4 linked regions of the Homo sapiens genome follow. The protein of the gene in region 3 purifies or fractionates together with the protein of the main gene of each other region. This does not show direct contact. Each region holds a gene or a part of one and is shown on either strand. Other genes may lie near its edges.

Region 1 (5,464 bases), on a different chromosome or scaffold from region 3:
TAAAACATGTTTAGTATCACTTAGCCCTGGAGTATGAGTTGAACAGTAGATACTGATGAGGAAGAAGAGGTAACCAGAGACTTCTTTAGACCGTAGAAGGAGAGTAAACATCATCTTAAAAGCAGAGGAAGCAGTGATGACTTACGTCAAAGTGGTAATAGAGTCATATTCTTGAAATATTAGAAGAGACCATAGTGGAGGCAGGGAAGCCAGAAGGCTGTTGAAGCATTCTTGGTAAAGTATTAGTGATGGCTTACTTCTACTAGGTAATGTCTGTGGTGATAAAAATGAATTACCTCATTTGAGAGAGAGTTAAAAGGGCGAATGGATGGAACTTGGTGATTGACAGGGTTGAAGGAGCAGTAGAGAGGGAGAAGGGAAGTATCACACCCATTTTTCTGGCATGAAGAATAAGGTAGATGGGAATGCCACTGAGATAAGGCATTGATTCAGTACAGATACAGGAGTGAGGTGGTCAAAACAATCATTTTAGTTTTGGATGTTTGGCATTTGAGGCATCTGTGAGTTTTCCAGGTAGATTTATCTGGTAAACTGTTGGATATATGGATTTGAGCTGAGCTAGAGATAATTTATTCATTCATTCATTCCGCAAATATTTATTAAACCCTCTTAAGTGCCAGGAATTATTATATATGTATTGGGGATATTGTAGTAAATAGACAAAATCGCCCTGCCCTCAGAGATTATTTTTATAAAGTGGGAAGATAGACAATAAACAACAAAATAATTTCAGATAGTCACAGTACCCTGAAGATGAAACAGGGTAATGATACAGAGATGGGGGGAAGTGAAGGAGGGATTAGACAGGTGACCAGCGGTGGCCTTTCTCAGGTGGTGATACTTGAATCATGAGAAGGAACTAACTAGGTTTAAAGTCAGGAGGAAACATTTAAGGAAGAAAGAGGAGAATGTGTACAAAATTTTTGAAGGCCTTAAGGGCCCACTGAAGTCTCAACTACATTTTGTACCCCAACTTTTTGTCACTCCAGTGTGTTGGGTCACCCCAGAGCAAGTGCAGATACATCTTTTGATGGTTGATTTGAACATGAATTGAGAAGAGGGCAGAAATACCCAAATGTCTAATCTTTTCCTCTCTCTCTTTTTATCCTTCTTTGGGTTAACCTTTCCATATCTCATGAAATAAGAACGGATTCTCAATCTAGTGTTAAAGCAAATATTCAGAATATTCCCTGAATTGTGTTTGCCTCTCTGAAATGCAAAATTAATTCTACTTCAGTCCTTTTTTACCCAAATATATATTAGTATTTCCTAAATGTGCCTTTGTTGTTCCCTACAATATTAAGTGCAGGTTCTAAGGAGGAATTTGGTTTTCCCACCTATTTTACATTATTATATCTGTAAAAATCCAATAGCAATAGAACACAGAGACACAAATAGAACTTAGGAGGATTCAGAGCTCCGCTTGGTTGAACAGAGAAGTTCATTAAACCAAGCAACTCATTCTGTTTTATAACAGATGATTTACTGGCTAACACATTGGAATGTGTGCCTGACTTTTATTTTCTGGTGAGTCTTCCAGTGATAAAACCTAAAATCAGTGGTAGATTTTAAAACCTAAAATCAGTGGTAGATTTTCCTAGAGCAAAGTTTCTCAACCTCAGCCCTACTGTCATTTTGGGCAGGGTAATTCTTTTTGTTCTGGGAGACTGTCCTATCCATTGTAGGATGTTAAGCTGCATCCCTGACCTCCACCCACTAGATGCTAGTTATATGCTCTCTTCATCTGTGACAGCCAAAAATGAGTATAGTTATTGCCAGTGTCCACTGAGAGTCAAAATCAATCTTGGTTGAGAAACTACTGTTTAGAGGAATTCTTAACTGTTTTTCTGAAGACACATACCTCATGCTTCAAGGGTATAGCCTACTGACCCTTCAGTAGGCAGCAAATTGAAGGCCTATTAGTAAAGTGAATTGATTTCTGTCACCCAGATCCTACTATGATGAGAGGAAGGCTGGCTACTTACTCGAGGGACAACTTCTGTCAGCCATGTGGTACTGCTGGAGGTGACACTGGCATCTTATACGCAAATTTAGTTATTTGCATGGTGGAGTATTGAGAGATAAGGAAAATTATGAAAACTATCGTATGCTAGAGAATGTATCACTTAGTATTTAACATACACCAAATTATGTTTTGAAAAAGTGAGTAATGAGTGATTAGGTGTGTATGTGTTTTTATATATACATGCACATATATGTATTTATAATGTTACAGTTCCCTAATTATTTGTATGTTGGCTCTTTGGGATTTTGTGTATGCTTCAATTTTCTCCTTAACTAATCACTGTCATTATATCCTCTAAGTTATCTTTGTCTGGTTGATTACTGCATGAGATTTCACTAAATGAATTGGAAAAAAATGTTTTAGCTGTTTTGGAAGATGTATTTGCATCTTTTGTGTTGTTACCTACAGTTAATAACATACTTCCTGATATTCTGTAGCATACAGATGTCAGCTCTTTCCAGACAATGGACCAAATGGTGTCAAATATGAGAAACTATATGCAGAAATTAGAAAGAAACTTCGTAAGTACTAAAAACAAAGCATTGAGAACATTGTGTATACTTTGATATATTCTATTTCATAGTGGCTTTCAAACACTTTTTTAACCATAGTGGTTAAAAAAGATACCTTACATGATTAACCCAATAAGCAATATTTGTATACTTTATAAATATATTTGAAGCAAAAGTTTCATGAAAAAATGACTATACTATTTACAGTATATACAGTTATTTTCTAGTCTATTTCATGTATTAAAAATCCTGGTTACAACCCACTAAATTGAGTTCATAACCTCCAAGTTTGAAAAATAATGTTAACTTTGAAAATTTTTTAAAAATTGGAAAAAAAATAACCTCAAAAACATTGATTCTATTGAAAGTCACTATTGTAAATGAACATTTTATATGAATTTGCATAATTTTATTATTAATAACCTGTCTACTTAAAAGGATTTGTAGCATCTGAAGAGTTTCAGGGTTTTATAAACGACTCTGAAAACAGAAATTTTAGGAATAATGTTTAGGTATAGTTCCCTAATAGTCCAAATAAACTAGTACTATAATAATACTCTCTATATTAACATCAAAACCAGTCACTTGATTTGATCTGAAGAAGACCCATAACATTCTAGTCATCCAGTTTGAATTCTATGGATCATTTCAGAATGCCCAAATAATCTAGGGCATTATTGGTTTTAGTAATGTAGCAATCTGGTACCTACAGGAGGAGGTACGAAACTTGATGTATAACTAATTGATTGGCTTAATGTTGGCAAGATTACACACAAGGGTCAACCACTGACTATAGAAGTATCACAGGTTTGGGGGCATAGCATCTTTATTGAAATCTAAGCCACGAGCACCCAAAGACTTAAGGATCTCTGAGTGAGTCACTTATTAGTCTTTGTAACGAGAGTGGGATAATTGTACCTAAAATGGACGACCGTTAGGACCCTCTAGGGGTGACTTTTTTTGGGCGGAGGTAATTTTTCAAGTCACTTCTCACTTGAGAACCTGGGTGTGCCTTTGACTACACCATATTGGTAGTTTAGTATCCTTAGTAGAACTTACAGCTAGTGTTGTTACTTATTTGAACTCTCTGGCAATAATTATTTATATTTGACTCGACTGAATTTACAATTTGTTTACCTGTAGGGTCAACTTTCAGTGGATCCAAATGGACATTCATTTTGTTCTTCCTCAGTTATGACTTATTCCAAAATAGGAGATGAACCGCCAAAGGTTTTTCAGGCCTCAACTCAAACTCGTCGAGCTCCAGGAGGAGTAAGTTTTCTATAAGCATTCCTAAAGTTTTATAAAGTTAGGGGATGATAGACTGTCTAGATCAAATTTTAACTATTAAAATTTAATCTGGTACAAGATGGTGGGGGGACAGGAGGGAGGTGTGGGGGTTGGGGGTAAGGTAGTCCTCACTGTGGAAACCATTAAAGCTCAACTGTATTTACTTAGTTTGTGGCATTTTTTTTGTAGCCCCCCCACCCCCCCGTGAGGGTGCCTTTTTTCATGTAAATATCTATGGATGTTTATTACCTTTACATGTTGACAAGGTAAACAAAACACGAAAAGAAGCCTTTGTTTCATGAAATTAATGTCTATTTTTAAGTTTACATTTGAAGTGAATTAATTTTTTAACTCATGAAATATTTCAAGTGTACAGAAAGGATATAGAGAATAACATAATAAGTGCCCATATTCCTGCCACCCAGTTTAGTCATATCATAACATTTTTCTCTATTTGCTTCAAGTTGTCTCTTGCTTTGTTTTCTTTTTAAGCGAAAATGTACAGAGGCAGTTAAACCTTCTAATACATTCCTCTGAGGTCTATTTTCCCTTTCTCCCCTTCTCAGAGATTACCATTTTCCTGTATCTGGAGTTTATCATTTTCACGCATGTTTTTACAATTTTATTACTTCACGTTTCTGTCATTAAAAAAATGGATTATTTTCCAGATTTCCCAACATTACATAAAGGGTATCATATTGCATATGTCCTCTGCAACTTGTCTTTGCTGAGTAATATGCTTCTGAGATTTATTCAGCTTGATACATGTGGCCCTGGTTTCTTTAACTTCTATGTAGTATCCAAAATATGAATATATTATGATTAATACGCTTCTGAGATTTATTCAAGTTGATACATGTGGCCCTGGTTTCTTTAACTTCTATGTAATATCCAAAATATGAATGTACCATGATTTTTAAATCATTTTCTGTCAATAGATATGTAGGTGAGTCTAATCTTTCACTAATTCATCTTTATACATGGCTCCTTATACAGAGTCTAGGAGTGGTATTGCTGAGTTGTAGGGTATGTGTACTTTCCTCTTTACCTAGCGTTTCCAAGCTACTATCCCAGTGATTGAAATTGTTGGCTTCCAAAACTGTGGCTTGTGAGTTTCCATTTCTCTACTTCCTTGTTAGTACTTATAGTAAAAATTTAGGTTTACCAATCTAATGAATGTGAAGTAGTACATTTTTTAGTTCTTACATATAAAGATGAACCTTTTAATGATGCTTTTGCCATAGTTCTGCTAATTAATCTCAGACATTTTAATTTTAACTTTCTAAAAGTGACAAACTTAAATGTAAACAGAATATAATTGTAGATGTCCCACAGTAAATCATGTTAGTTGCTATCAGAAATATTCTTATAATACTTCCATAGAGTTGATAGTCGGGAATCATGAGATTCAAGCCAATCAATATGACTGATGAATAATTAGTTGCCCTTATTTGTAGGAATCCCACCATAAACTTCCTTCTATTACATTATCTAAGACAGTCTTGAAGGCATTAAACTATAATTGCTACTTTTGTTTTAATATTTGATTACAATTTGGAAAAAGGTTAAATTGTATGGGTTCTGTTTGTTGTAGACATTTTCATTTTAAGGAGTT
Region 2 (5,464 bases), on a different chromosome or scaffold from region 3:
CAGGAAGTCAAGACTGCAGTGAGCCATGATTGCACCACTGCATTCCAGCCTGATCAACGAGAGTGAGACCTTGTCCCCTGTCTCAGTAAATGAATGAATGAATGAATGTTTCTTCAGCTGGCCCCATTGCTGTGGATTTAAAGAAATACCTTTTCTTCCTGGTTTTATTTAACCTTTGAGATCCATCCAATAATCTCTAATACCATCAATTAGCACTTCCCCTTTAACATCCCAAACACTAAGGTACCTCATTTTCCCAATCTGAAACATGTTATCAGCTGAGTACAGTGGCCTGTAATCTAATCACAGCACTTTGGGAGGCTGAGGAGGGTGGATCACTTGAGACTAGGAGTTCGAGACCAGCCTGGGCAACATGGTGAAACCCCATCTCTATATGAAATTTAAAAAAGAAAATAAACATGTTATTATGTTTACTGCCGCTGCTCTGTTTGGAAGATGACAGAGCTCCCAAAGTTTTGCCAGTCTTTTGTTCCTTTACAAGTTTTTCTGGAGCAACTTACTTTTTCTTCTTTAACTTTTTGTCAAACTCACTGTCAGAATTCCTGCCAGAAGAGCTTGAAGAAACAAGTTCCTTTGATTCAGACATAATGCTGCCCTGCTTCTGCAGCTGAACACCCTCCTGTTCACTCATGTGCAACTGACTCATTTGTAAAAATTTCTTTTTTGGCCGGGCACGGTGGCTCACACCTGTAATCCCAGCACTATGGGAGGCCGAGGCGGGTAGATCACGAGATCAGGAGTTCGAGACCAGCCTGACCAACGTGGTGAAACCCCATTTCTACTAAAAATATAAAAATTAGCCGGTTGTGGTGGCAGGCACCTGTAATCCTAGCTACTCAGGAGGCTGAGGCAGGAGAATTGCTTGAACCCTGGAGGTGGAGGTTGCAGTGAGTCAAGGTCACGACACTGCACTCCAGCCTGGGTGACACAGCGAGACTCTATCTCAAAAAAAAAAAAAAAAAAGAAAAAAAAAGTTTTTTTTTTGAGACAGGGTCTCGCTGTGTCACCCAGGCTAGAGTGCAGTGGTGCCATCATAGTTTACTGCAGCCTCAACCTCCTGGGCTCCAGTGATTCTTCCACCTTGGCCTCCCACAGAGCTGGGACTACAGGAATGCACCACCACACCTGGCTGATTTTGTTTTGTTTTGTTTTGTAGAGACAGAGTCTCACTATGTTGCCCAGGCTGGTATTTTAAATTTTTAAATAAGAGACAGGATTTTGCTATGTTACCCACGCTGGTCTTGAACCCTTGAGGTCAGGCTGTCCTTCTACCTTGACCTCCCAAAACACTGGGATTACAGACGTGAGCAACTGTGTCCAGCCCTGTGCACCATTTATTGATTGATTGAACACTTAGCTGTGGCAAAGACTAACCTTACAAGCATTCCATCTGTGTCTCAGAACGCTTTTGGGTGCAGTTAGTGGAATACCCTGTTAGAAGGGACAAACGATACTTTAACTCACAGATGGATCACCTGGGGACCTAGTTAATGTTCAGATTCTGACTCAGTAGGTCTGGGGTGGAGCCTAAGAGTCTGCATTTCTGGCAGACTCCCAAGAGGCTGATGCTAGGGGCCCACAGACCACACTTTCAGTAGCCAGGGCATCAATCATAGACATTTGTCTTTTGATTCTGCACAAGGCTGGAGGTGGGTGACTCCAGGATGAGACTAGCAGTGTAGAGACACCAGGGCTCTATTTTGGCTTCTCTCTGACTTCATTGCCTTCCCTCCTGCAGTTGCAAGTAGCTGCCGCAGGTCCAAGCATGCTCCCCTTACAGGACAACATCCAAAGAGGACAGAAGTGGGGCAGTGGGAAATTTTAAGAAGGGATTTTCCTCCTGTGGCTTTCTCTTCTTGTCCTTTGGAGAGAAAAACCTTTCCCGGAACCTTAAACCTTTCTTACTCCCCAGGCATGCTTTTCTTTGCATCCCAGTGACTAGGATGGGGTTACATTCCTGCCTGGACTGGTCACTGGCATGGAGCAATAGGATTGCAAGATTGGCTATACCAATCAGGATTCAACCCCTCGGACTAAGCATTTTGCTATTTTCTTGTTAGCAAGGAAGAAGCGTGGAATGGCTGGTAGATAGGCAGACATTAGTGTCTGCTACACCATGTTATCTCAGTTTTCCACACAACTGTACCATCATCCCTGTTATAGACTGAGGAAGCAGCTTGCAGCAGTAACTGACTTGCTTAAGGTCACACAGCTATGACAGAGGTAGGACTCCTGTCCATCAACCTTTCCATCAACAGTACTCATGCTGCTCTGCTCCCCATCAGGTATGACAATCGGTGCAGGAACATGAGCCAGGAGCAGGTGGCCCAGAAGCTGGCCAAGGACCCCAAGCCTGCGATCCGCTTCCGCCTGGAGCAGGTGGTGCCAGCCTTCCAGGACCTGGTCTATGGCTGGAATAGGCATGAAGTGGCCAGCGTGGAGGGAGACCCAGTCATCATGAAGAGCGACGGCTTCCCCACATACCACCTGGCCTGCGTGGTGGACGACCACCACATGGGCATCAGCCACGTGCTGCGAGGCTCTGAGTGGCTCGTCTCCACTGCCAAGCACCTGCTCCTCTACCAGGCCCTGGGCTGGCAGCCACCCCACTTCGCCCACCTGCCCCTGCTCCTCAACAGGGATGGCAGCAAGCTCTCCAAGAGGCAAGGGGACGTTTTCCTGGAGCACTTTGCTGCTGATGGCTTCCTGCCCGATTCCTTGTTGGACATCATCACCAACTGTGGCTCAGGTTTTGCAGGTACGTGCCCACCTGAATAGTCCTGGCAGCAGAGAGCATGGCCAGGAGGAGCAGGGCTTTGGCTCAGACAGTCCTGCTCTTTGGTCCCAGCTTTGCCACCTACCAGCCAGGTGACCTTGGACAAGTTTATTCTTTTATTCAATAAATGTTTATTTTGCCAGACACCACATTAAGTGCTGGGGCTACAGTAGTGGGTGAGATAGACATGATCCCTGCCCTCAAGGGACTTATAGTCTCTGAGCCTCAGTTGCATATCTGGAAAATGGGGATAAGTGTCTACCTCATTGGGTTAGGATTCACTGAGCTCAGGAGTGTAAGGTACCCAGCCCAGCACCTGTCACACTGTAAGCACAAAAAATGACAGACCCTATGATTGTGACAATTATTACAAGCATGTATGCTAACAGTATGACTAGAATTAATATGGATTTAGTTTCTTTTTTTCCTTCTTCATTTTACTGCCAGATGAATCTAGTTTATTTCAAGCTGAGCACTTACCCATGGTCCAAGACTTAGACCCAAACCTTGAAGAAGCAAGCATCAAATAGGATGACCTGAAGGATTTCTGAAAATGTGTCCAGAATAGCCTGCCTGCTGGTCTCATTTCATTTAACACAACATACTATTAAGGGGTAGATACATATCTCCACTGTTTGTAAGAGGATTGTGAAGCTCAGAGAAGCTGAGTAACTTGCCAAAGTCACACACCTAGTGAGGGATATAGCGCTTTAGGCCTATGCCTGATCACGATGCCTGCTGACCGTATGGGACTGAGCTGCTGCTCACAAGAAGCAGCTCCCAGCACTACGGTTCTTAACTTTTTTTTTTTTTTTTTGAGACAGAACTTCTTGTCCCCCATTCTGGAGTGCAATGGCGCGATCTCGGCTCACCGCAACCTCCGTCTCCTGGGTTCAAGCGATTGTCCTGCCTCAGCCTCCCGAGTACCTGGGATTACAGGCACCCGCCACCACGCTTGGCTAATTTTTGTATTTTTAGTAGAGATGGGGTTTCACCATGTTGTCCAGGCTGTTCTCGAACTCCTGACCTCAGGTGATCCACCCGCCTTGGCCTCCCAAAGTACTGGGATTACAGGCGTGAGCCACCGTGCCTGGCCTGGTTCTTAACTCTTGATCGTGCTTTGGAATCAGCTAGGAAGCTTCTAAAATATGCTCAGACCCCAACCAAACCCAGTTGACTCAGAGTCTCTGGTACAGCCAGGCAATGGGCGTACTGTTCTGCAGCTCGTGTCTTGAGAGTAATGGAGATGGGTTTAGCCTGATTGTTTTCAGACCTTTTTTTCTTTAATGATGGAACCCTTTCTGAAAATGAAAGCTCATTCAGGCTCTTGATATATAAATAGCTAGAAGTTAAATCCCTTTGGGCAAAGTGGAATGGGGGGCCCAGGGCTTGCTCACTCAGCCTCCCTTATGTTTGAAAGTAGAAGGAGGGCGGGCACAGTGGCTCATGTCTGTAATCCCAGCACTTTGGGAGGCCAGTGCAGGAGGATCATTTAAGCCTGGGAGTTTGAGACCAACCTGGGCAATATAGTGAAACTCCATGTCTACAGAAAAATGTATGTATGTATGTGTGTATGATGTATTTATTTGATAGAGTCTCGCTCTGTTGCCCAGGCTGGAGTGCAACGGCACAATCTTAGCTCACTACAATCTCCGCCTCTCAGGTTCAAGTGATTTTCCTGCCTCAGCTTCCTGAGTAGCTGGGATTACAGGCATGCGCCACCACACCTGGCTAATTTTTGTATTTTTAGTAGAGATGGGTTTCACCATGTTTGCCAGGCCAGTCTCGAACTCCTGACCTCATGATCTGCCGACCTCTGCCTCCCAAAATGCTGGTATTACAGGTGTAAGCCACCATGCCTGGCTCTACAGAAAAATTTAAAAATTAGCCAGGTGCGGTAGTATGTGCCTGTAGTCCCAGCTACTTGGAAGACAGGCTGGAGGATTGCTTGAGCCTGGGAGTTTGAGGTTACAGTGAGCTAGGATTGTACCATTGCACTCCAACCTGGGCAGCAGAGCAAGATCCTGTCTCTTAAAAAAAAGAGATAAAGTGGAAGGAGGAAGGGAGAGAGGAAGCTGAGTGGCTGGGCCTCTCTTCTTTGCAGAGAACCAAATGGGCAGGACCCTGCCGGAGCTGATCACACAGTTCAACCTGACACAGGTCACCTGTCACTCAGCCCTGCTGGACCTGGAGAAGCTCCCAGAATTCAACAGGTGAGTGGGGAGCATGGAGATCCCCTGGTGGCAAAGGGCTTTCTTGCTTATGATGATCCCTACAGCAGAGGGTATAATGGGCTCTGGTACCTAATTCTGTGTGACCATGGCTAAATCACCTAGCCTCTTTGAGCCTCTGTTTTCTCTTCTCTAAAATGGGATTAATAACAGTACTGATCTTATATCCTTGTTCTATGAAAGTATCTTGTATTAAGTGTTGCATGAAAATATCTTGTATAGCCCTGGCACATACAAAGTGCTCAGTAAATGGTACGTATATTTTTATCATTAACATTATGTTCCTAGCCACCCCTTGCATGGACTCTGTTAACAACCAAAGCCTGGAGAGGTGTATCTTCATTTTAGACTCCCTCCCCACCCTCAGCCTTACATCCAGCCAACACAGTGAGTGAGCACTGTCTCATGGCATCTACTTTATATTTCATGTATTTGA
Region 3 (4,603 bases):
TTTCAGCAACTCCAGAGAAGTTGGGTCAAAATGGATCAAAAGAGTAAACACTTGAAAGAAATGTATCAGGAACTAATGGAAATGTGTCATAAACCAGATGTGGAGCTGCTCCAGGTAAGAATGGAGGATGCCCCTTGAGACACTTTGTGTTAGCTGACCTTTACATCTTTGCCTTCCATTGGGTACCAAAGACATTATTTCCTCATCTCCTGTACTGACGGTGAGAGTCATTCCCACCGGTTATAGAGATAAACTATAACTCCTACGCTAATCATGGAAATAAAGCTTTATGGAATTGTGCAACTAGATTTCCATACAACATTTTCTACCACAAGCTTCCTCCTCCAGCACATTTCATTAAAACTCTGGAAGAAAAAATTTCATGCTTGATTTGAGCCACATTACACTTTGGGGACTAGCCCTGAAAAAGACCACATTGTAGACAGCTGCAGCAATGCGCAGTCACTACTCACACCTTTCTCTCTCACTCAAATTTAGGGTCCTTAATTTATCAGAAATCCATATTGTCAATAGGTCTTACTGGTATAATTGTTAGAGATGAGAATACATTTTAAAAGAGTGGCAGTAATAGTATACGGTAATTCTAAAGTTTTGAAAACCTAAAGACCAGATAGGCAGAATAGCAACTTTTTTGTGTGTTTATTTTGAGACAGAGTCTTCTTCTGTCACCCAGACTGAAGTCCAATGGCCCAATCTCAGCTCACTGCAACTTCTGCCTCCTTGGTTCAAGCAATTCTCCTGCCTCAGCCTCCCTAGTAGCTGGGACTAAAGGCATGAACCACCACACCCCACTATTTGTGTGTGTGTGTGTATTTTTAGTAGAGACGGGGATTTGCCATGTTGTCCAGGCTAGTCTGGAACTCCTGACCTCAGGTGTTCCACCCACCTTGGCCTCCCAAAGTGCTGGGATTACAGGTGTGAACCACCTCACCCAACAAGAATAACAACTTTCTAAAGAAGTCATTTTTTTTTTCTCTCTCTCTCTACAGGATTTGGGAGACATCGTGGCAAGGTATGTTTTTGGCCGTCAGTGCAAACTGGAGCACAAGGCATGCTATGAAAAACATCAAGCTGTTTCCAACAAAGTGAAAACATAATTTACTAACACCATAATGTGTCAGTGTGATTGTGTGTGTATGTGTGTGTAGTCATGTGTTTATGTGGTATGATGAATGTCATCTATGCCTTTTATCAGACATTAATCTTTTCTTACTTTCCCAAGTGACTCAGGGGTTTATGTTTTGAAGAGTGCAATGCAGAGGTTGCTAGAATACAGTTGCCTCTTTTTGCGATTCAGAATCATAATTAGAGATAAACTATTTGGTGGCAGATAGGGAGAGAGGCATTTATCTTTCAGGGGCAGTAGGTTAGAAATGGAGTGAATAGTTAGAAAGATTCCCTAAGAGCCACAAACCCATCCTAGCGTTGTGGAGGTACATTACGGTATCAGAAGTGGGTTTGAATGAAGCATTTTCTGTTGGAATCTGTTTCTTAAACACAGACATCAGAAAGTTAACCAACTCAACCTACTTCCTTGCAGGAGTGAGTCCGTGCTGCTGCACATGCCCCAGCCTGTGAATCCAGAGCTCACTGCAGGACCCATCACTGGACTGGTGTACAGGCTCAACCGCTTCCGAGGTGAGTGTGGCCCTGTTGGTGGGATCCACATGCAATGCCTTCAATTATGGTTTTCTATGGGCAGCTTTCCCAGTGTAATGATCTTTCATCTAGAAGAAGAGAATAGCCTGTGAATAGGTATTTATATTTATAGTTTCACTATCATCAAACAGACAAAACGAAATAAAAGCTGGTGAAATGTAATAGGAATCAGCCATATAACAAATTTCTTAGAAAAATAAAACATGCAGAAGGGCTCTTTAGGACTTTAGGAACCATTCTCTGATACAATTTCATGTATACAATTATTACATGAAGTATACAGAACTGAATTCAGGACATTTCAATTTCAAATTCAGTGCAGTTAACGACTGATTTGAGTGACAGCGTTTTTTTAAAAAAAATACATTTTTAGGTGATGTTTCATAGCATTTATAATTTTAATCATGTTTTTAATCAACTAAAGCATACATGAGTAACTTATATAACAATGCAAAAACTGAGAATCTGTCAACAATAGGAACATGATTTGGTGGTTGATGAGGTCTTAGATAGAACTCCAGGATAGATCATGACAAATCCAGCAGAATAAAAGAAGTCTGTGCCTGAATCTGGCATGAAAGTCAGATAATTTTTGCAAGGAATCAGCACTTTTCAGAAGGCAGATTCAGGTTTTCTCTTTAAGTATGAATTTGCTAGGTTAAGTGGCAGATCATAATATTTCTGGAAAGTGATAACTTTTTTATTTGGGACTAAGAATAGCTCCCCACCTCATCTCCTGTCCAAAGCCTCCTGCTCTGCCCTGACAGAGACGAGACAATGAAGGTTAATTTTATGGCTATGGACTTGGCTGCAGTGGAGGAGCTTCCAGTTTTTCAGTTGTTATGAAAGGTCGCTAACGAGACATAGACATGACCTTCCTCCCCTTTATACTTTTTGAGTTTATGGAAATTGTGATCATCCTAGTTTAGCCATTTACTTGTGCAGATCTCCTAACACCCTTTGATTCCAACATTTTTCCAGACAGAAGTTTCTTTCTAATCTTGACCTGTGTTTTCTAGTGAGAATCTCTTTCTTATCTGAACATAAGAATTTACAAACTGATTTTCACTGGAACATTCTCTTTTTTCTACAGTGGAAATTTCCTTCCATTTTGAAGTAACCAATCACAATATCAGGCTCTTTGAGGATGTGAGAAGTTGGATGTTTAGACGTGGACCTTTGAATTCTGACAGATCTGACTATTTTGCTGCATGGGGAGCCAGGGTCTTCTCCTTTGGGAAACACTACTGGGAGCTGGATGTGGACAACTCTTGTGACTGGGCTCTGGGAGTCTGTAACAACTCCTGGATAAGGAAGAATAGCACAATGGTTAACTCTGAGGACATATTTCTTCTTTTGTGTCTGAAGGTGGATAATCATTTCAATCTCTTGACCACCTCCCCAGTGTTTCCTCACTACATAGAGAAACCTCTGGGCCGGGTTGGTGTGTTTCTTGATTTTGAAAGTGGAAGTGTGAGTTTTTTGAATGTCACCAAGAGTTCCCTCATATGGAGTTACCCAGCTGGCTCCTTAACTTTTCCTGTCAGGCCTTTCTTTTACACTGGCCACAGATGATCAGGATTAAGAAAACTTACTGTTTGGGAACTCCATATACAAGGGAGCCCTTCACTGTTGATACAAAGAAATCATACTGTTCAGGCTTTTTTGTACTTTAGTGTCACTTCATTTTATTGCTATTAAATAAAAAATTTGTAAAAGGCAAAACTTTTTGTACATTTTCTTACAATTAAAATAATCTCTTATGGACCATTACCTAAAATACGTATTGTGATTTTCAAGTGTTTGTGAATTTATTGGATGGAATTCTGGAAATATGTGGGTGTGTGATTCCAACTTAATGATCTCATTCAGGAACAACTTTTGTACATCATGGGCAGACGGGGTTTTGTACAATGCACTTGTAAGTGTGAGAGTTCCCTCCTATTAATACAGTAAATTCTACACCTCATCCCTTTGGGGGGAAAAATTTATTTCACACAGAAGTTGTCACTGAATCTTTGGGCTAGAACAGGAATTTAACAGTCATGCATCCTATGGCAACAAAATACATTCTGAGAAATGCATTATTAGGCGATTTCATCATTGTGTGAACATCAGAACACACTACAAAAACCTAGATAGTATATTCATCTACAGACATAGGCTAATGGTACAGCCTATTGCTTTTCTGAGAATTTGCTAGCGATGTCTGAGCAAGAACCAAAAGGGTTTAACCCACATTGAATTCTGCAGCTGTTTAATAAAGCAAACAGCATCATCCAGGGAATAATAGATGTGCAGACTGTCTGCTTTAAAATGTGTTTATATTTCCAATTCACACAGACTGTGAATTCTCATTGACAACCTAGAGACCAGACATAACCAACACCTCATGTTACATTGGAAACATATTAGTATCAGGTAAAAATAAATAAATAAATAAATAAACAAACTAACTAAATTAAACCAAAACAAAAAGTGAAACAAACAAAACCCAGTTCTGATGAAAACCCAGTTTATAGTGAGTCCATTGAGTCTGTCTAGCCACCAGATGGTCATTTTCATGATCACTGATTAAATAATGGAAACATTCTACTTCCAGTCCAGCAGATGATCCTGGCTGATGTCTGAGGTTCATTGCTTGGGGCTGTTACCTAGAATATATTCAAACGGCCTTTCCAGGTAGCTCCCTGGGCTTGCTCACAGCATGGTAGATAATTTTCCACAGTGAAGATTCCCATAGAGTCAGGAGAATTGTATACTACCATTATTCCAGAGAGTAAAACATCAGCTGTAGCCACAACCCTACACAAAGTAAAGGGACTAGAACACACACACAGCAGTAGCAGTCTTGAAGTTACATCATAGAAAAACAATGTGGGATGGAATATATATTTTAGCACTCTTTTAGAGAGAGTGGGGG
Region 4 (5,464 bases), on a different chromosome or scaffold from region 3:
CTCTCTGCCTGTTTTTTAAGACTTTTGTCTTTGGAGTTTTGCGGTTTCTCCACTGTGGTTTTCCATATGAATTTTCTTTTATTTCTTCTGCTTAAAATTTGTAGGCCAGTTGGTCATGGTGGCTCACGCCCGTAATCCCAGTACTTTGGGAGGCCGGGTGGGTGGATCGCCTGAGGTCAGGAGTTTGAGACCAGCCTGACCAACATGGAGAAACCCCATATCTACTAAAAATACAAAATTAGCCGGGCGTGATGGTGCATGCCTATAATCTCAGATACTCGGGAGGCTGAGGCAGGCGAATTGCTTGAACCAGGGAGGCGGAGGTTGCGGTGAGCTGAGATTAGGCCATTGCACTCCAGCCTGGGAAACAAGAGCGAAACTCCATCTCAAAAAAAAAAAAATAATAATAATAATTGTAGGCCTTCCTTAAGAAAAATAAAATAAAATTCTAGGCTGGGCGCGGTGGCTCCTGCCTGTAATCCCAGTACTTTGGGAAGCTGAGGCGGGTGGATCACCTGAGTTAGGAGTTTGAGACCAGCCTGGCCAACATGGTGAAACCCCGTCTCTACTAAAAATACAAAGATGAGCCATTTGTGGTGGCACCCATCTGTAATCCCAGCTACTCGGGAGGCTGAGGCAGGAGAATTGCTGGAACCCAGGAGGCAGAAGTTGTAGTGAACCGAGATCATGCCACTGCACTCCAGCCTGGGTGACAGAGCGAGATGCCATCTCAAAAAAATAAAATATAAAATAAAATTCTAAGCCCTGCAACCAACTGAATGGAGCCCTCCCCTTGGTCAAGGGAACCCCAGAGAAACCTTGGAAGCTTGAGTTCCTGGCCGTAGCAGGAGAGGAGGTCAGACGCGCCTCACTGTACCCCTCCCTCCCCAGCCACCATTAGGCTTCTTCACTAAGGGCTAAACAGAAACCAGCCCTTTTCAAAGACTCTACACTGCTAATGTGGATTACTGGTTTATCTTCCCAGATACAGATTAAAGACAAGATGAGATTAATGGTTCCTTCACCCTTCCCTGAGAGGTCTGCTTAGTTCTCTTCCTCTGTTTCCTTCTATCTTAGGTAAAATGTACATTTACTGGGCACTTACTGAAGTCTCACAAGTACGTAACCACTCACCTCACAGCCACCCTCCCTCTTTGAAGGACCACATGTAATTACTAAACCTCCTGAGAACCTCTTGGGACAGAAACAAGCACAGATGTGCCGTGACTCATGTTTTTCCTGTGGGCACCCTCAGGCTGGCTCAGTAGCCCTCACTTGCTTGAGATCCTGAATCTGCGGGTTGGCGTCTTTCATGGTTGCTGGATCATACTCTGCCGTTATCTCTTCGGATATGAGTTGCCCCTAGCCCACTATCTGGCCCCTCTCTTTAGGGACCTCTGATTGAACATACATTAGACCTTCTCTCTCCTGCTGTTCCTGATCACTCTTCTGTCCTGTAATTGCTGCTTCTTGTGCTGCATTCTGGGTAATTTCTTCTGGTCTTTTTTCCAGTTTACTAATATTGTATTCTGTTATAAGGTCCTTCCATTGAGTGTTTCTTTCTTTCTTTTTTCCCAAACAGCAACTCAAAACAGACATTGAGTTTTAATTTTGGTTCCTGTACTTTTTATTTCTAGAAGTTCTATTTGGTTATTTTTCAAGTCTGCTACATTATTACATAATTTTTTAATAATTTTATATCTTTAATAGATAGTTTTTTGTTTTGTTTTGTTTTGTTTTGTTTTTTGAGACAGAGTCTCGCTTTGTTGCCCAGGCTGGAGTGCAGTGGTGCAATCTCAGCTCACAGCAACCTCCGCCTCCCAGGTTCAAGTGATTCCCCTGCCTCAGCCTCCCAAGTAGCTGGGATTACAGGCACGCATCACCACGCCTGGCTAATTTTTTGTGTTTTAGTAGAGACAGGGTTTCACCATGTTGGCCAAGACAGTCTCGATCTCCTGACCTCGTGATCTGCCCACCTCGGCCTCCCGAAGTCCTGGGATTACAGAGCTGAGCCACTGCGCCTGGCCTTTGATAGATATTTCAAGTTCATCTTTTTTTTTTGCTTCCTTAATTTTTTTTTTTGCTATACCCCATGCCTCCAAGATAACAGTTTTTTCTTTTTAATTTAAATATAATACAGTTTTACTGTGTATCCAAGAATATCTGAAATCTTTCGTGGGTCTCTTTCTTTTGTCTTTTGTATCTGTTGCTTTTTGCTGGGCTGAGCCTGCTTAAAACAAGCCCCGTTAGCTGTAAAGGTTTACCTTAGAAAGTCAGGTGTCTTCCTCTGTAACTCTCTCCCTTTTCCATCTGCTCCAAGGCATTTATTTATATTAATCTTGACGCAAAGGGAAGTTGTGTCCACTTCACCTTGGCCAGTAAGGAAGCAGTGTTTGGCAGATGTTGTTACTCCTAATAATGCCAGCCAGTGAGTGAAGCTGACCTGAATGCCTCCCAGGGCTGAGGCAATGGCATGATCACCGAAGCTCAAACCAGAGACAGTTTCACCTTTCTGACTGAATAGTGTTCGGTGTAGGCCAAATGCCTGCAGACTACTGTTTGAGGACTGGTGTGGTCTACCAGGTGTTTCCTTAGCGCCTGGATGTCTCTGGCTGCCATCCCAGGGATAGAGCATGGTGTTAGATACGCTAGATGCCTGCCGAAGTAATTATGGGTGAAACATATGATGTCCAAGATTTGCTTTTAAAGGCTCCAATACCTCCTCCCAGATTCCGGAGGGCTGTGAAACAATTAGCTATGAAAACTGGTAATTCCTGAAGCTGGGTACATGGGGGTTCATGATCCCTCTCTCACCTTTTTTGGGGGAGAATGTTTGAGACTTTAATAAGAACTTGTTGCCTTTTCCTTTTACAGGGTGTTGCAGGCATCTTCCTCAGGCCTGTTTTCTCTGTTTTCCAGGCTGACGTGATGGCAGACAGGGTTCCCCGCTGCCCGGTCTGCACCGGCGTTGTGAAGCCCGACATTGTGTTCTTTGGGGAGCCGCTGCCCCAGAGGTTCTTGCTGCATGTGGTTGATTTCCCCATGGCAGATCTGCTGCTCATCCTTGGGACCTCCCTGGAGGTTTGTCAGCAGGCCTGTGCAGGGAGGAGGCTGGAGGGCAGGGGAAGGGAGGGGTACAGGAGTCATCTCATGGGCTGTCGGCAGGCCTGTGCAGGGAGGAGTCTGGAGGGCAGGGGAAGGGAGGGGTACAGGAGTCACCTCATGGGCTGTCGGCAGGCCTGTGCAGGGAGGAGGCTGGAGGGCAGGGGAAGGGAGGGGTACAGGAGTCATCTCATGGGCTGTCGGCAGGCCTGTGCAGGGAGGAGGCTGGAGGGCAGGGGAAGGGAGGGGTACAGGAGTCATCTCATGGGCCCTTCCAGGGCTGGTGCCACTTTGGGAAGGTGAATGGATTCAGCTGGGGTTCCAGGCTGAGGGAGCAGCAGCCTGTGCAGGAGACAGGAAGGTGGGAAGCTGCTGGGCTTTGGAGGTGGTATAGGTGTGGGTGGGGCACCACGTGTGAGGAGAAGGGAGAAGGATGGGGGTGTGGGGGCGAGGTGGAGGGGCAGGGCCTCCCAGGTCAGATCAGGAATACTGATGCTGCAGTGGGAGGAGTGATAAATCCACAGGGACTGGCCCGGGGACGTAGCTGCACCCTTGGGGTCAGGGAGGCCTTTGGGGAGTGGAGAGTGGAGCAAGCAGTGCCAGGAGGCTGGTCCTGGAGAAGGTGGAGCTGTGGTCGCCTGAGGGATGGCGAGGAGGGGGACTGGACTCGCAGTCTGTGATGTTTTGGGGACGTGAGAAGGAGGCGTCTGGCTTGGTCTGTAAGGTCAGGGCACTTGCTGGTGAGGCGTGATTTGGGAGGGAGGATGCCCAGCTCGGTTCTGTGTGTGTCTGAGGTGTCGGGAAACATGCCCTGGATGTGTTCAAGCAGCTGTTCTGCGTCTGCGTCTGCAGCTCAGGAAATTCCTAAAAGCTGTGATGAGAGCAAGAAATGAGACCATGAAGTCAGTGTGTGCGTGACTGGATGTAGGCACCGAGGACAGAAGGGCCAGAAAGACCTGTGCTCAGAGGGGCCCAGGGCAGCCACAGGGGCCCAGAGCATGTGTTTGTTCAGGCATTCATTGTGTGCTGGGCCCTGCTCCAGTGCTTTGGACATACACGGTCAGATGTCAGTGTAAGAAGTTATATAGTTTGTTAGGAGATGATTGATGTTATGAGAAAGATAACAAGTAGGATAGAAAGGCTAGAAGGGTTGGGAACCAGCTGCAGTGTCAAGTCAGGCAGGTGGAGTTGGATCTAAGAGTTTACCGAGGTGAGGAGGGTCTGGCAGGGGACACTGCACAGGTGACAAGCAGCAAGGAGGGTGGGGCGAAGTCAGCATTGATGGCCACGGGGCTGGAGCAGAGAAGAAGGTGGGGCACAAGTGTCATCTCATGGGAGGCTGGCGCCACCTCAGAAGGTGAATGGGTTCAGCTTGGGTTCCAGGCCAGAGTCTGAAGTTGAGAGGACTCCGTTGGGTGCTGGGCTGTGAGCCCACCATGGGGGCAAGACTGGGAGCAGCAGACCCAGCAGGGCCCTTGTAGGTAATCACCGGCTGGCACTGGCTGGGGGCCAGGTAAAGCCAGCAGAGGCTGAGGGGTGCTGGAGTCTGGGTGTGTGTGAACGCAGAGTGGGTACGCTGGCACAGTGCATGGGAGGCCGTGGATTCCCAAGGACCCCAGGGCTGTGGCTGGAGCAGCTGGAAAGACGGAGCCGCCGCTTCCTGAGATGGAGAAGCCTGGTAGGTGGGTTTGGGGGAGCTCAGGAACTCAGCCTTGTTTCCACGGATTTGAGGATGTGCTGCGGACTGGAGGTGTTGAGCAGGTGGACATGAGTCTGGAGTCCAGGAAGGCCCAGAGGCAGGAGCTGGGGTGCTGGAGTGAGCAGACAGGAGAGCCCAGGGTGTGGACAGACATGAGAATGCCATGCTAGGCCTAGGATGGAGGGACAGACACAGGAGGAGCAGTCAGAGGGGCCATGGTGGTCAGCACAGTGTGGGCTGAGACCAGCTGACCGTGCTGGCCACCAGGTGTGGACACTTGGGCCACCAGCCATCTTTATTGTTGAAGTGAAATGAAAATGGCCTTTTTCCTGATTATAAGTGTATCATGTGTGTCTTTGAAAAGATTCGTACATTATATAAAGATATAAAGCAAAGGATCAACTTTTTAATCCCACCAACTGTTAGCATTTTATTCTGTGTCCTCTCAGCTTTCTTTTTTTTGTACAAATGCATACGTACAGATGGTAATTTTAAACTAAAAGTTGGACAGCACTGTACATTCTATTCTGCAGCCTGCTGTTTTCACGTAACAATGTGAGTCCATGGAGATGTGCTGCGTTGTTAATGCCAACAGTTTCCCTTACACGGATATGAGGTCCCAACTGAGAAACCCATGTCTGTAAGGCTGGTGCCATCATGAAC

The links. Proteins that work in one complex are often made in the same cells at the same time.
Region 1: the proteins of TRIM43 (region 3) and MLF1 purify together in Homo sapiens (affinity purification with a luminescence readout; one large-scale study listed by IntAct). This does not show direct contact.
Region 2: the proteins of TRIM43 (region 3) and EARS2 purify together in Homo sapiens (affinity purification with mass spectrometry; one large-scale study listed by BioGRID and IntAct). This does not show direct contact.
Region 4: the proteins of TRIM43 (region 3) and SIRT3 purify together in Homo sapiens (affinity purification with mass spectrometry; 2 studies listed by BioGRID and IntAct, with this or other methods). This does not show direct contact.

What each region holds. Positions count from the first base shown.
Region 1 is NC_000003.12:158,594,378-158,599,841, forward strand, and holds part of MLF1 (myeloid leukemia factor 1), read left to right. Parts: intron 1-2,484; coding exon 2,485-2,568; intron 2,569-3,702; coding exon 3,703-3,831; intron 3,832-5,464. UniProt on the Homo sapiens protein: Involved in lineage commitment of primary hemopoietic progenitors by restricting erythroid formation and enhancing myeloid formation.
Region 2 is NC_000016.10:23,532,203-23,537,666, reverse strand, and holds part of EARS2 (nondiscriminating glutamyl-tRNA synthetase EARS2, mitochondrial), read left to right. Parts: intron 1-112; exon of another isoform or gene 113-283; intron 284-434; exon of another isoform or gene 435-663; intron 664-2,306; coding exon 2,307-2,779; intron 2,780-4,901; coding exon 4,902-5,010; intron 5,011-5,464. UniProt on the Homo sapiens protein: Non-discriminating glutamyl-tRNA synthetase that catalyzes aminoacylation of both mitochondrial tRNA(Glu) and tRNA(Gln) and participates in RNA aminoacylation for mitochondrial protein translation.
Region 3 is NC_000002.12:95,596,319-95,600,921, forward strand, and holds the end of TRIM43 (tripartite motif-containing protein 43), read left to right. Parts: coding exon 1-114; intron 115-1,010; coding exon 1,011-1,033; intron 1,034-1,561; coding exon 1,562-1,659; intron 1,660-2,773; coding exon 2,774-3,255; 3' UTR 3,256-3,460; downstream 3,461-4,603.
Region 4 is NC_000011.10:221,695-227,158, reverse strand, and holds part of SIRT3 (NAD-dependent protein deacetylase sirtuin-3, mitochondrial), read left to right. Parts: intron 1-1,077; exon of another isoform or gene 1,078-1,486; intron 1,487-2,919; coding exon 2,920-3,081; intron 3,082-5,464.